Linked DNA regions of Homo sapiens: region 2 is linked to region 1. Evidence: fine-mapped QTL for protein levels in blood plasma. A gene starts in region 1. The other region holds a variant in brackets. All regions are shown on one strand. Distances are between the middles of the regions.

What was found. PIP is the chance, under the fine-mapping model, that this variant and not a neighbour inherited with it causes the effect. Protein levels are from antibody-based Olink assays in UK Biobank. Linkage for the fine-mapping came from a reference panel and not from the study's own genotypes, which makes the PIPs less certain.
Region 2: its variant is fine-mapped to the plasma level of the TNFRSF1A protein (UK Biobank, PIP 0.98).

Annotation. Positions count from the first base shown.
Region 1 is chr12:6,339,338-6,344,856 of GRCh38, reverse strand. TNFRSF1A (TNF receptor superfamily member 1A) reads left to right here and starts at 2,781. Exons shown (of 10, transcript NM_001065.4): 1 at 2,781-3,081. The coding sequence starts at 3,043. It also overlaps the pseudogene RN7SL391P. RefSeq lists an enhancer at 2,879-2,978.
Region 2 is chr12:6,330,050-6,333,561 of GRCh38, reverse strand. It overlaps TNFRSF1A (TNF receptor superfamily member 1A), which reads left to right. Exons shown (of 10, transcript NM_001065.4): 4 at 46-195; 5 at 415-493; 6 at 2,636-2,709; 7 at 2,851-2,964; 8 at 3,267-3,295; 9 at 3,496-3,512. Among named protein-coding and RNA genes, the nearest start is that of TNFRSF1A, 10 kb to the left of the region's middle. RefSeq lists an enhancer at 3,195-3,324. The variant A/G (reference allele first, on the strand shown) is at 2,719.

The DNA.
Region 1 (5,519 bases):
TCCTAGCTACTCGGGAGGCTGAGGCAGGAGAATTGCTTGAATCCGGGAGTCAGAGGTTGCAGTGAGCCGAGATTGTGCCACTGCACTTCAGCCTGGGCAACAAGAGTGAAACTCTATCAAAAAAAAAAATAGGACATTGAAGTTGGTTTCTTTTTTTGATACAGAGTCTCGCTCTGTCACCCAGGCTGGAGTGCACTGGCAGGATCTCGGCTCACTGCAACCTCTGCCTCCTGGGTTCAAGCAATTCTCCTGCCTCAGCCTCCTGAGTAGCTGGGATTACAGGCACGCGCCACCACGCCTGGCTAATTTTGTATATTTAGTAGAGACAGGGTTTCACCATGTTGGTCAGGTTGGTCTCGAACTCCTGACCTTGTGATCCGCCCACCTCAGCCTCCCAAAGTGCTGGGATTGCAGGCGTGAGCCACCGCACTCTGCTTTTTTTTTTTTTTTTTGCCGCCCTCTCACATACCATACTCCCCTGTATCACTTATCCTTCTGAAGTTGTTATTAATCATTAATACAACTAGCTGGGCATAGTGGTGTGCGATGGTAGTCTTAGCCACTCGGAAGGCTGATGTGGGAGGCTAGCTTGAGGCCAGTAGTTCTAGGTTAGGTGAGCTATGATTGCACCATTGCACTTTAGCCTGGGTGAGAGCAAGCTCCTGTTTCAAAAAAAAAATTAATTGCTACCACTTACTAAATGCTTAATATATGGCAAACACTTGCCAAACACTTTATATGCTTGATTTAAGCATCAAGCTAGCTCTGTGAAGGGTACCAGCAGGTTTCCCATTTTTTAGATGAGCAGACCGAGGTTCTTCTCGCTGCTTCATACTGGAAACTTGCACTTGATTCTGAGGCTCCTGCTTCTTCAAGAACACTGCTTTGGGTTCGCTTCTCCTGTCCCTGGGGTCTCCCTTTGTGATGGTGGTGAGCTGCTTCCTTTCTGAATCCAGCTTCAACCCTACAGTTCTCCAGAAGCTGGACGATGGGGTGGAGTAAAGTCAGCTCCCCCCGCAGTGAGGGACACTGAAGCTCCATTCTCATCTGCGGATCACAGAGGGGAAGCCAGGAAGAGCCAGGGGACGGTGGACTTGGGGCTGGGAGGTCATCTCAGAGGGATAAGGGGTGAGGAGCTCTGGTTTCAAGTTCCAAAGCCCTAGGACCTCCCTCTTCTCTGTCTGCCTGCATTTCTAGCAGCCTCAGCAGCTGCAGGCCCTTGGGCGGGGCTGGATGTAGGGAAGGTCATTGTACCAAGAAGATAGTTGGGTAAATGTGGTACCTTTGTTGTAGGATTCTCTTGGGAGATGTCTGCATCAATGAGGATGGCATAAAGTAACCAGAGTCAGGATGTGGGGTCTGACTCAGTGACAGAAAAAGTGGCAGTGTGTCTCTCATAGCCAAAGGGGCCCTTGGACCGGCAGTCGGGAGTCTGGGGTTCTCTGTTGGCTCTGCCTCCTGGCACATTGGGTTTCTGGACCTCAGTTTTCTCCTCTATAAAACCGGGCAGTTGGGTGGGCACGGTGGCTCACACCTGTAATCCTAGCACTTTAGGAGGCTGAGGTGGGCAGATCATTTGGGCCCAGGAGTTCAAGACCTGCCTGTGTAACATGGTGAGACCCTGTCTCTACAAAAAATACAAAAATTACCCAGGCGTGGTGGTATGCACCTATAGTCCCAGCTGCTTGGGAGGCTGAGGTGGGAGGATTACTTGAACCTGGGAGGTCGAGGCTGCAGTGAGCTGCGATGGTACCACTGCACTCCAGCCTGGGAAACGGAGCGGACCCTCAAAACAAAAACAAAAATGAAAAACAAGCAAACGAAGAAATAAAAAAACCTAGGGGGTTGTAGTCGATGATCTGTAAGGTGAGTTATAATTGATGTATTGGAATATTTAGGAAAAGGGCACTGGGAATATGCTAGGAACACCTGATGGAGGTATCTTTATTTCCACGGCAGCTTCGTGGATACGTCTCATTGATTCTCATGGCATCACTTTCCCCATGTAGGTGGGCAGACATTGTTACCCCTGTTTAATAAACAAGGAACCAACAGAGGCTTAGGAGAGGAGTTGCCTGATGTCGCATGATTGGTGGCAGAGCCAGGATCAACAGTGGGGCAGGGTGGGGGGACCTGGCCAGGCAGAGACTGGATGAGACCTGGGGTGAGGAATGGCAGGCACCCAGTCAGGGCAGAAAACGAGGGTTGGGACTTACTTTGAGTTTTGGATTGGATCAGTAAATTCCCAAGAAAGAGGGAGACTAGGAGGCTAGTGAAGAACTCTGGAGTAAAGGGGAGGATTACTAAGGGACATGGAGTACCTATCATGTGTCGGACGCTTATCTATATCTCTCCCATCTGAACAAATCCTTACAGGAACCCCAGGAGACAGGTTATCTCCACTCTGCAAATTGGAAAACAGATCCAGACAGTTTCAGTTATGTGTCTGAGAAGTTCATTTATGTGTCCAAGACACATTCTTAGCTAAAAAGCTAAGCATTCTGAATTGGAACCCAGAGAATTTGACTCCCAGACTCTGGATCTTTTCACTGCTGTGATCCATCTGGGAAAGGCTAGTGATGTGGGCAAGGGGCTTATTGCCCCTTGGTGTTTGGTTGGGAGTGGTCGGATTGGTGGGTTGGGGGCACAAGGCAGCCAGATCTGGGACTCCTGTGCTTGTGACTGGACTACAAAGAGTTAAAGAACGTTGGGCCTCCTCCTCCCGCCTCCTGTGGCCTCCTCCTCCAGCTCTTCCTGTCCCGCTGTTGCAACACTGCCTCACTCTTCCCCTCCCACCTTCTCTCCCCTCCTCTCTGCTTTAATTTTCTCAGAATTCTCTGGACTGAGGCTCCAGTTCTGGCCTTTGGGGTTCAAGATCACTGGGACCAGGCCGTGATCTCTATGCCCGAGTCTCAACCCTCAACTGTCACCCCAAGGCACTTGGGACGTCCTGGACAGACCGAGTCCCGGGAAGCCCCAGCACTGCCGCTGCCACACTGCCCTGAGCCCAAATGGGGGAGTGAGAGGCCATAGCTGTCTGGCATGGGCCTCTCCACCGTGCCTGACCTGCTGCTGCCACTGGTGAGACCAGGGACAAAGGGAAGAGTGGGCTGGTGGGCGAGGCACCTTCCGGCTGGCGTGGGCCCTCTCCGGGAGGGGGCCGAGCCTCTCCTGCCCGGGCCTGGTCCTGGCGCCAGCCTCAGGCCTGCAGGTCCTAACCTCAGCCACTGCCAGTGTGGGGTTCCCCATTCATCCGCCTTTTGGAGTAGGGGCTGCGCTGAGGCAGGGGAATGGGAGAAGTTTGAAAGGGAGAGAGTAAAAGGAAGCCCTGGCCCCTGACAGCGGTGGAAGTTTGTGGGCGGCCAAGGGAATGTGGGCAGGAGATAGGCCCAGGGTGGGGCAGATTTGGCGGGGAAAAGAAGGGAGTGGGAGTAGGAAGATTAGTGCTCGGGGAGTCCAGACGGTTCTGAATTCTGTCCCTCCGGTCAGCTGGCTGGCCTGGAGGGTGTTGGGCCGTGGGGAGGCGAGGCTGCCTGTGGAACTTGGTGGAGCACACCCTGTAGGGCAGGATTTTGGCGGCTGGTGAAGTGGGGGAGTGAGTTGAGGAGTGGGGATGGGCTGGTGTGGTGGGTTTGGGATGCTCATGGTGGGAGGTATTTGAGAATGGGCTGGGACACTGGATGGGGCAGGGCAACCCAGTGGACAGTGTCCCCAGTGCCCTGGCCAAGCCCCGGCCTCTCACCTGGGGACATTCTTTACCCTTTTGCCTGCTGCTAGGCAGGTAGCCGCTGTGGGACTGAGCCTTCCCAGGGAGCTAGTCCTACCCCCACCTGGTCAGTGTCCCTGGGCCTGTCCTCCAGCTTCCCCTCCCCGCTGCTTCTCACAGACCTAAACAACAATCCCTTGGTTTCTTATTCTACAGTTCAGTTTGGGGAAGTTGGTAGAAAGTTGTTTTCGTCACTGGAAAATGTCCCTTTCTCTGGCCTCAGCCTTGTTTCAATGTATCCTTGATCGTCCTCCACGTCTTGGTCCGGGAATCATCCTGTTCAGATGTCCTGGGCCCATCTAGTCAGGCAGATTTTCCCTGCCCTGCCCGGCCTCTGAAGGCTGCGCCTACCTCCCCTCTCTTTAGTGCCTTATACTCTTCCTCTCCTACCATTCCTTTCTTCCAGCAATCTCCCCAGACTCTCCTCAGACTTCTCAGAGCCTCTTTTTTTGAAATCTTTTCTCGCTAATCCTCCTTCCCCTCCTCTCTGCTCCGCTCTGGTCCCGGCCCCAGGTCCCCAGGCAGCACGTCTCTGGTCAGGGTCTCACTCTTCTTCTTCTGCCTCCTCCTGCCTCCTTAGTCCCACCCGCTCTTCCCTTCTTCCCACTGTCCTTCCCCCACGGTCTCCCCACCAGCCAGCTGCCCTGACATCCTGCTTCTGTTTTCTGTTTGGGGGCGGCCCCTGGCTCCCTCACATACCTCCTGCATGAACAAGAGCAGCTTATATAACCTAACCTTCCATGCCTTCGTTTCTTTATCTCCAAAATGGGTGTCACAGTCTTGACCTCATACTGTTGTTTTGAAGATTGAATAGACTGATACATGTTAAGTGTTCATTTGATTTATTAAGTGTGCGCTCTGGGCTAGACACTGTGATAGGTGCTGGGATTACAGCAGAGAACAAAATCCCTGCCCACAGCTTTGACAGTCCATCAGGGGAATAGGTTGTAGCAAATAGAAAGCACTCAATAAAGTTTTTATATTGCTGTGACTAGTAGTAATTACTGGGTGGCTACCTGTGTTGGGAAAACAGAGGGTAAAGGTAGCCTGAACAGGTAAAGGGAAGTGCCTGCGTCCTGGGGTGCTTCAGCCCAGGTGGGATTATGTCTCCTAAGGGACAGAAGCCTGGCCTGGAGCTGGAGGAAAGGGAAAACAAAGGGAATGCAACATCCTTCTGAATTTCTCACCATTCAGTGGGCAATGCAGAGCTCACAGTGTGTGTGTGTGTGTGTGTGTGTGTGTGTGTGTGAGAGAGAGAGAGAGAGAGAGAGAGAAGTGGGGTAGGGGAGTAGGGAAGAATGATACAGGAGAGACTGTGGCAAAGCAAACAGGATTTTGCTGCTCTCAAAGAGCTTACAGCCTAGTAACCAAGATGGCTTACAGTGAAAAATGATTTCAGAGCAATCCCGAGGAAAATATCCACAAATGCATTGTGATGTGGTGTCCTGGAGCACCAGTTGGGAGGAGGAGGAACTGGGGAAGGAGGTGAGCCTTAGTCCACTGCCTTTCCTTGCTTAGCAGGTCTCAGCTCCTGCGCTCAGCTCCAGAAAATTCAGGAGCTTCCCCACGCTGCTTCAGTGTCCTTCACTGTGCAACTGCAGCACTCCCTGTATAGATCTCAGTGCCTACAACTGACTGTCTTTGACTCAAGTGAGAGCTCTTGAGAGCACGAGCTGTGTATTATCCACCTCAGCATCCCTAGCACCCATACGGGACCTGTCACATTAACTGTGCCCCTTAACTATTTGCTGAA
Region 2 (3,512 bases), 10 kb after region 1:
GACAGGAGGATGCAGGACTCATACCCCATCTTCTCCCCTCACCAGAAATGGGTCAGGTGGAGATCTCTTCTTGCACAGTGGACCGGGACACCGTGTGTGGCTGCAGGAAGAACCAGTACCGGCATTATTGGAGTGAAAACCTTTTCCAGTGCTTCAATTGCAGCCTCTGCCTCAATGGGACCGTGCACCTCTCCTGTGAGCGCAGCTCTCCTGAGGCCAAGCCCTCTCCCCACCCCAGGGGTTGGCCCCTTCCCCATGCGGTGGCACTTCCTTTCCTTCCCCCTCCTGTATTCTGTGGGTCTGACAACCAACTCCTCTCTGGCCGCCCCCACCCTGTCCCTCGTCACTTCCTCTGTCCTGTGGGGTGGGGGTGCAGGCGCTTCTCCTTTAGCTGTGCCGCACTTCTCCCTACAGGCCAGGAGAAACAGAACACCGTGTGCACCTGCCATGCAGGTTTCTTTCTAAGAGAAAACGAGTGTGTCTCCTGTAGTAAGTGAGTATCTCTGAGAGCTGCTGGGCACTGGATGGTGGCATGGGTTGGGACGGGTGACTGGTGGGAACCATTAGCTGGGCAACAGATGCCAGGATGCCCCAGAGTGCTCAGGGTCCTACTGGCTGAGTAGGAGACACTTCGTTAAGACACCAGGCAGTCCTTCCCCTTGCTCTTCAAATCTGAAGAAGTCTTTGAGGATGGAAGATCATGCCCCAAGGGCTGGCAGCCCTTCCAACTCAGATATGTAGATTCTTGGATCTACGATAGCTCATTGGTTCTAGGACATACACTCTTATAGCTCTGAAATCAAACCTCCTATAACTGGTGACTCATCATGGTTGAATTGGCAGCTCTGTTTGCGTCTGGGTAGTAATGTAAAGAAAAGTGCCTTTTATTCTTGATGGCGTCTTAGGTTTGATGCAATATGGTATTTCCTCATTAGTCACTGTCCAGGCCTCCTTACTCCTGGCTCCACAGAGGCTGTTCTTGTCACTCACTTGCAAAGAATAAACTCTGAGGGCTCTCAGAGTTTGAACCCCAGCATAGCCACTTACTGGCTATGTGACGTTGGGCAAGTTTCTTAACATCTCTGAGCCTGACTTTTCTTTTGGTGTTTTTTTTTTTTTTTTTTTTTTGAGACAGGGTTTCACTCTGTCACCCAGGCTGGAGTGCAGTGGTGCAACCGTGGCTCAGCCTCCACCTCCAGGGCTCAAGCCATCCTCTTGCCTTAGCCTCCTGAGTAGCTGGGATTAGAGGCACACACCACTACACCCAGCTAATGTTTTACTTTTTGTAGAGACAGGGTCCTACTATATTGCCCAGGCTGGCCTCGGACTCCTGGGCTCAAGCGATCTTCCGCCTCAGCCTCCCAAAGTGCTAGGATTACGGGCATGAGCCACCACGCCTGGCCTGGGCCTTAGATTTCTTATATTTAAAGTAAGCATAATGACATTCATTTGGTGAATTTGTGAGAACCAAAAACAAAGAAACAAACAAAACCTACAACACGTCTGACACAAAACTATTTATTTTCCATTAATCTTCTTTTTTTTTTTTTTTTTTTTTTTTGACACAGAGTCCTGCTCTGTCGCCCAGGCTGGAATGCAGTGGCGCGATCTCGGCTCACTGCAACCTCTGCCTCCCAGATTCAAGCAATTCTCCTGCTTCAGCCTCCCAAGTAGCTGGGATTACAGGCACGTGCCACCATGCCTGGCTAATTTTTGTATTTTTAGTAGAGATGGGGTTTCACCATCTTGGTCAGGCTGGTCTCAAACTCCTGGTGATCCACCTGCCTCTGCCTCCCAAAGTGCTGGGATTACAGCCGTGAGCCACTGCACCCAGCCGGCTTCATCTCTTCTTGAAATCACTTTTATACCATTCTATGTGGTTCTCACCATGAGCTTGAGTGGTGGGCTAAAGTGCCTCTCCCTGCTTTCAGCTTCCTGCTGGGAACTCACTCTCTCAAGTTCCTTCCAGCACCACCCCATAGAGTTCCCATCACTCCACACTGTCCAGTGACAACTCCCAACATGGAAGATCTGCTAGTTCTACAGGGTGCTCTCTGGCTGCCCCAGTAACATGTGTTTTTAAATTTTTCACATGCATGTTTGACCCCGACTCCCCGAAGTCAGGTACTGTAACTAGCAGTGTCATTTAAGAAAAAGCCCTTTAACCTCTCTTTGCCAAAGGATTCTTATCAGCAAAACAGTGATGAAACAACAATCCCATAACAGCTAGCTGGCTACCTTCTCAAGCACTTATTAAATGAGGCATAATGATTTTGCTTAATCCTCAATCCTGAGAGGTGGGCGATCCCTGTGGTGATGAGGAAACCGAGGCTTGGGGGTTAATGGCTTGCCTAGATTCACACTGCTAGCCAAGGAATGAACTGGAATTTACACCCTGACCCTGACTGCTTTTCACATTTTCTACACAGCCTTTTCAAGATCCCTGCCAATTCTAAAATTAAATGATTCTATGATTAACTGTGTTTCATTCTTCTGCATCAGTTCCCAAAACAAATTATATCAAGAGACAGCAAAAATATTTGTAAAGAAAGGATGTCCAACAATCTGTGTGGTTGTTTTTCTGTGTTCCTCCAATGGTAGGGCCTCTGTTCACCAGTGCCGTCTCTTCTTTTAGCTGTAAGAAAAGCCTGGAGTGCACGAAGTTGTGCCTACCCCAGATTGAGAATGTTAAGGGCACTGAGGACTCAGGTGAGGAGA[A/G]GTGACCTGGTGCCCATGCTCACCTGCCCTCTCCCTCTTCTTGCCCCCACCCGTCCATCCATCCCACCCATCCATCTATCCCTGCGGCCCCCCTCTGCCCGCTCCTCTGACCAACACCTGCTTTGTCTGCAGGCACCACAGTGCTGTTGCCCCTGGTCATTTTCTTTGGTCTTTGCCTTTTATCCCTCCTCTTCATTGGTTTAATGTATCGCTACCAACGGTGGAAGTCCAAGCTCTACTCCATTGGTGAGTGGGGGCTTTGGGAGGGAGAGGGAGCTGGTGGGGGTGAGGGAGGACATGGGTGGGTGCGATGGACATGTGTGGAGGGAGGTGAGGAGTGTCCCCTCAGTTCATACCGCTGGGGACTCTGGGCAGAAGGTGGCCCTGGATGGCTGGGGAGATGTCGAGCTGCATCAGTAGCTCTCTCGTCCCTGGGGCCACATAGGCCCTGAGGCATGTCACCACAAGTCCCCACTGCCAGCTGAGTCCAGGGTGCCAGGGCTGAGAGAGGAAGTGAAATTTATGATGCTTTCTTTCTTTTTCCTCAGTTTGTGGGAAATCGACACCTGAAAAAGAGGTGAGATGAAATGAGAGAGTTACTCCCAAATGTCCCTGACCATTCCTTATAATTGCCTAATGCTCAGATCCCCTGGAATCATCCTTCACTTTCCGGGGGCTCGCCTCATTCCCTCTAAGTCCCAACCCCCACGTAGAATAAAGAGGGCCGGGGCTGGTTTTCGCTGCCGCACTAATGCTGCGCCACCTTCTCTCTTTCAGGGGGAGCTTGAAGGAAC